Regions from separate parts of the Homo sapiens genome. Here region 2 is linked to region 1. Evidence: fine-mapped expression QTL. A gene starts in region 1. The other region holds a variant in brackets. All regions are shown on one strand. Distances are between the middles of the regions. Region 1 holds the start of IQCK-AS1 (IQCK antisense RNA 1). Region 2 has its middle 3.4 kb from the start of UMOD.

What was found. PIP is the estimated chance that this variant, and not a neighbour inherited with it, causes the effect.
Region 2: its variant is fine-mapped to the expression of IQCK-AS1 in prefrontal cortex (GTEx, PIP 0.97).

The regions. Positions count from the first base shown.
Region 1 is chr16:19,764,751-19,767,662 of GRCh38, forward strand. IQCK-AS1 (IQCK antisense RNA 1) reads right to left here and starts at 1,320. Exons shown (of 4, transcript NR_188663.1): 1 at 1,219-1,320. The region is part of intron 6 of IQCK (IQ motif containing K); the gene reads left to right. RefSeq lists enhancers at 2,338-2,838, 2,839-2,912.
Region 2 is chr16:20,354,624-20,357,535 of GRCh38, forward strand. It overlaps a transcript of UMOD not described here. Among named protein-coding and RNA genes, the nearest start is that of UMOD, 3.4 kb to the left of the region's middle. The variant A/G (reference allele first, on the strand shown) is at 1,223.

The DNA.
Region 1 (2,912 bases):
CGCGATCTTGGCTTACTGCAAGCTCCACCTCCCGGGTTCATGCCATTCTCTGTCTCAGCCTCCTGAGTAGCTGGGACTACAGGTGCCTGCCACCACACCTGGCTAATTTTTTTTTTTTTTTTGTATTTTTATTAGAGACGGGGTTTCACCGTGTTGGCCGGGATGGTCTCGATCTCCTGACCTCGTGATCCGCCCACCTCAGCCTCCCAAAGTGCTGGGATTACAGGCGTGAGCCACCGTGCCCGGCGGATCACGAGGTCAGGAGATCGAGACCATCCTGGCTAACACAGTGAAACCCCGTCTCTACTAAAAATACAAAAAATTAGCCAGGCATAGTGGCGGGCGCCTGTAGTCCCAGCAACTCGGGAGGCTGAGGCAGGAGAATGGCGTGAACCCTGGAGGCGGAGCTGGCAGTGAGCCCAGATGGCTCCACTGCACTCCAGCCTGGGCGACAGAGTGAGACTCCATCTCAAAAAAAAAAAAAAAAAAAAATCAGTTTATATCTGGCCGGGCATGGTGGCTTATGCCTGTAATCCCAATACTTTGGGAGGCCGAGGTGGGCAGATCACTTGAGGTCAGGAGTTCGAGACCAGCCTGGCCAACATGGCAAAACCCCGTCTCTACTAAAAATAAAAAAATTAGCTGGGCACGGTGGCACGTGCCTGTAATCCCAGCTACTCAGGAGGCTGAGGCAGGAGTATCGCTTGAACCCGGGTGGTAGAGGTTGCAGTGAGCCGAGATCGCACCACTGTACTCCAGCCTCGGGGACAGAGTGAGACTCTGTCTCAAAAAAAAAATTTAGACTCTCGGCTCTCAGTTGTCACATATTTTGCTTAAATCTTCCCTCTTTGAGAATACCAAGATGAATAGACCCTTGGCTGACTCTGGCAATTTTGAGAATTTTAAAAACCCCAGATATTAACCAGTTTTTTTTTAAATCTAAGATTACACATTGAAAGGAGAGAAACATAGGAAAACCTTGTTTCTTATTTAGCTTTCAAACCTGTGCCTGATTTTATCCGCTATGAAATGTATAGCCCAAAATTTATTGATTTACATATATTTTTCTAAGACAAGCTTCTTTGAGTATCATTCTCCAAGTTGCTGCTTTGCCTTGAAAAAAAATTTTCCATTTGTAATAACCAATGAAAAATAACCTTAAAAATAAGATAACTTCTCTAATAAGAATCCTCTTAGCTTTATTTATTATACAAATACCTTAATTTTAAATGGTGCTGATGTCCACAGGAAGCTCATGTAAATATACTGTGAAGGAGCAGTAGCGGTCATTTCAGCTGCACTCCACAGGAACAGAAACACAAGAGCTCTTGCTTTAACGGGCATTTATATTCTCTACATCCATGACCTTTCAAAGAGATGCCCAGATGCATGATAAAAATTAAAGTGATATTAATCTATTTGATGCAATGAATGTCTATCGAACACCTACCCAGTTCAACTGCACAGAGCTTGGTGCTGTGGAAAAAACAGAGATGAATAAAGTATGGCCCTGGCCCCTTGGGGTGGGGGGACATGTTTACAACTTGCTGTAGTTTCTGTAGTGAGTGTTGTAATTCAAATGTTAACAAAGCATTAAAGGGAAGTGGGGAAGCATGAGACCATCCACGTGCCCTTCCTGGTGGGCCTGGAGCCAGCCCAGCTGGGGCAGCGGCCAAGCTGGTTGGTGCCCAGATTTGGTCCAAGGCAAGAACTCAAATGCTGCATTCTTCTTGTCTCAAGTAGGAATAGTCAGAGAAGCAAGCAGGAACCAAAGTTCTTAAGGAGAACAAGGGTGGGAGCCGGGAAATATCCAATCCAGGTTGTCTCAACCTTGGCACTATTGACATTTAGGACTGGATAATTCTTTGCTGTAAGGAGCTGACCTGTGCATTGTAGGATGTTTTGCAGCATCTCTGGCCTCCACTCACTAGATGCCAGTAGCACCCTCCTACAGTTGTGACAATCAAGAATATCTCCAGACACTAGCGTATGTCCCCAAGGGGAATGAGGCAAAACTGCCTCTGGTTGAGAACCTCTGATTTAGTCCAGTAGTTTCAAAACTTTAAAGCAGCACTTTGGGAGGCCGAGGTGGGTAGGTCACTTGAGGTCAGGAGTTCGAGACTAGCCTGGCCAATGCAGTAAAACCCCATCTCCGCTAAAAATACAAAAATTTGCCAGGTGTGGTGGCACATGCCTGTAATCTCAGCTACTTGGGAGGCTGAGGCAGGAGAACTGCTTGAATCCAGGAGGCAGAGGTTGCAGTGAGCCAAGAAGGTGAAACGGGAAAAATTACCTTGTCCCCCTCGCAGGGCATGCAACAGGGGGATGTGGCTCGCTTTTTCAGTGCCCTGCTGCTCAAACCTCTAGGGGAGCATACAGGCAGGCAGGTTGTCGGGCTCCCACCCGATGGCGGTGTCTATAGGTGAATTTACAGCTGAAGCCCCAGTGGGCATATGTTACCAGGTGCTCTCTTAGTTTGCCATCTATAGGCGGTTTGTGTTAACCAGCTCAATTCACCCTCTACCTTGTTGCGAGGACAGAGGGATTTCTGTATCCCAGGTTCTTGCCTTTGTGTACCAGAGAAATCAGATCACACGTGGGCTTGGAGAATGAGTGCAAAGTTTTATTGAGTGGAAGTAGCTCTCAGCCGATGGAGGAGCCAGAAGGGCACCATGGTTTTTCCCATGGAGTTGGGCTGCTCAGCGGCCACAGCTTTCCTCCGACTAACTGCCCTGGCCAAACTCAGCCTCGTCCTGCCAGGTGCCTGTGCCTGCCGTGTGCTCTTCTGCTGGTGTGCTCCTCTCAACATCCTCTCCGTGAGCAGCTGCTTGTATCTTTTTCCGCTGAAGTGCTCCTCTCGACGTTTGGCTGCCTGGGTGTCTGCCCGCTAGGGTCTCGGGCTTTTATATGCC
Region 2 (2,912 bases), 590 kb after region 1:
GTGACCCCAGGTGGCTTCTGGAGTTTTCTTGACAAAGACTTGGGCAGGAAAATGGGGAGTTTGGGTTGGAATCTATTCATAAGTGTAATCACCATGCTTTCTAGTTTCTGTATTTGGTGCTTGTACATTTTGGGGCCTTACTGATCATGGAGGGACTGCCCCTCCCAGGGCTCAATAATTACTAGAGATCAAAAACGACTTATCTGTGAATGTGCCTTTCCGACTGCAAATCAATCAATCCAGACCACATACCCCCAACCCTTGGCCTCCTTTTTGGGGCTTTTACACTTAGGGTCACTACTTGCTGCTTTAGATCACCCCAAGGGACCAGGTACCAGACAACTAGAGACAACTCCTATGGCCCAGAGGTCTCTGAAATTATTCAAACTAAGCCAATCCTAAATCTGCTTACCTTGCCTCTCCCATTCCTTCCTGCAGAAACTACAATAAAGGCTCTTTCCTGCCTTTTCCCTTGCTCTCTTTGCTTCCTGACCGACCCTGGTACTTCCCAGCAGCTCTTCCTCTCCCTTCAGCCCCTCTGCCCAGTGTGGTGTGTCCCCTTCTCTTGGGATCTGTGAGTATAACAAGTTGTCAGTGGCCATAATTTCCTGCTCTGTTGCTCATCAAGTTCACCAAAGACATCCATGTTACCAAATTCAATCAATATTTTTCTCTTTATCTTACCTCTAGGACAGTGCACAATAAATATTTGTTTTTGAACGAACCTTAATCTCTCAGCACTTCGCTCTTGAAACACTCTTCTTTCTTTCTTTCTTTTTCTTCTTCTTTTTTTTTTTTTTAATGGAGTCTTGCTCTGTCACCCAGGTTGGAGTGCAGTGGCTCAGTCTTGGCTCACTGCAACCTCCACCTCCCAAGTTCAAGTGATTCTCTTGAATCCTTGAATCCTCAGCCTCCCGAGTAGCTGGGATTACAGGTGCATACCACCATGCCCGGCTAATTTGTGTTTTTTTTGTACACATTGGCCAGGCTGGTCTCGAACTCCTGACCTCAGGTAATCTGCCTGCCTCGGCCTCCCAAAGTGCTGGGATTACAGACATGAGCCACCACAACCAGCCTGAAACACTTTTCTCTCTTAACTTTCAAACATGGGTAGGAGACTTGATCTTAATAATGCTGAGAACAATCACCCACTGAGCACTTCTCTTGGGTCAGACACTGTGCTCAGTGCTTTTGCCTCCATTGTCTCAAACAATGAAACACA[A/G]CAACCCACGTCACAGGGAAGAAGACAAGTTCAGAGAGGTGGAGTAACTCCCCCAAGATTACACAGCTAGCGAGTGTTAAATCCAGACTAAAACTCAAATCTCACTCAGATTTACCTGCATTCCTTGGGTTACAGAACATTCCATGCTCAGCCATGACAGGGTCTTAGAAGGATAAGTGGTTTTAGGTAGTTTTGGAAAGAGTGAAACTAAAGGGTGGAGAGTTTTGAAAAATTGATCAAACAGAACACAAAAACTTAGAATGAGAGGTTGGTGTGTGTCAGAAAGCGGCAAAAAATGAGCCAAGGGAGAAGATCCCCCAAAAGAGGGGTATTACCTGTCCCACCTACCTCTCTGAGCACACACCTCCTGAGGCTCCAGTTACGCCTGGGGGACCTGGAGGTGGCACACCCATTCTCTGGCTCGTGGCCTGTCAGGGGCTCTATGCCACATGATCTAGTCTAGGCAGCCCCCCGTAACCCTCCTTCAACTGGCAGCCACATGACCTCAAGGCCGAGGCAGGTGAGCCTTACACCGTGTCCTGAATACTAACACCTGCTCCTGTTGGGGAATTCGGCTCAGGTGAGTTCCAGAGCCGCAGGCTGTTCCCTGCTTCCTCTGGTTGTGGACAGGCCAGGTTCAGGGTGAGGGGCATGGGAGCTGTCTCTGGAGGTATGAGAAAGCACAAATAGCCTTTGCCTTACATGACAGGTGAGGAGTGGAGAGACCCAGGTGGTTTCTAGAGACCTCAATTTCTAAAAGAATGCTGCCCTTCTTTTCTCAAGAGAAGGCCTGGCTGAAATGAATGACACAAATCCATGAGTTAAATCTGTGGTAGGCTGAATAATGACCCCCAAATACGTTCACCTCTGAATCCCCAAACCTGTGTGTGTTGCCTTTTATGGCAAAAGGGACTGTGCAGTGTGATTACAGATCCTGAGATGGAGAGGTTGTCTGGGCAGGCTGGATGCAATCACAGTGGTGCCTATAAAAGTGATGCAGGAGGAGTCAGAGGAAGTAGGTGTAAGGATGAAATGAAAAGTCAGAGTGATTCTAGGACAGAACCATAAACCAAGGAATGCAGGGGCCTCCCAGAAGCTAGAAAAGGCATAGCAGGGAATTCATCCAAAAGGGACTAACTCGTGAATTTAGTCCAGTGGAATTGATTTCTAATTTCTAGCCTCCAGAACTCTAAGAGAGTAAGTTTGTGTTGTTTTAAGCCACTTAAGTGTTAATTTGTCAGATCAAAAATAGGGAACGAATACAGATTCCAGTTTGGATCTGGGGACAACACTGTCAGCACCTCTGCCTTTTGGGATGACTATGAAATTATGTATTTCTCACCTAAAATGGAATATTTGATTGATCCACGAGCATTTATTGAGCATCTACTATGTGTCAAGCAGAGTTCTAGGCAAAGGGAATACGGCAAGAAAAAAAACAATAGATATATCTACTTTCGTGGAGCTTACATATTAATTGGAGAATCAGGCAATATATCATTGCACAACAAAATAAGATGCTTTCAATTTTTAGTCTCCAGGAATGCCTTTTGGAGGTGGTGACAGGTGAGCTGAGATTTGAACCAAGAAAAGAACATGGCTATGTGAGGAACTGGGGGAAATGTATTTTGAAGGGAGTGCATTTAGGCAGAGGGAACATGAGGAGAGAGTGAATTTGGCTTGTTCATAG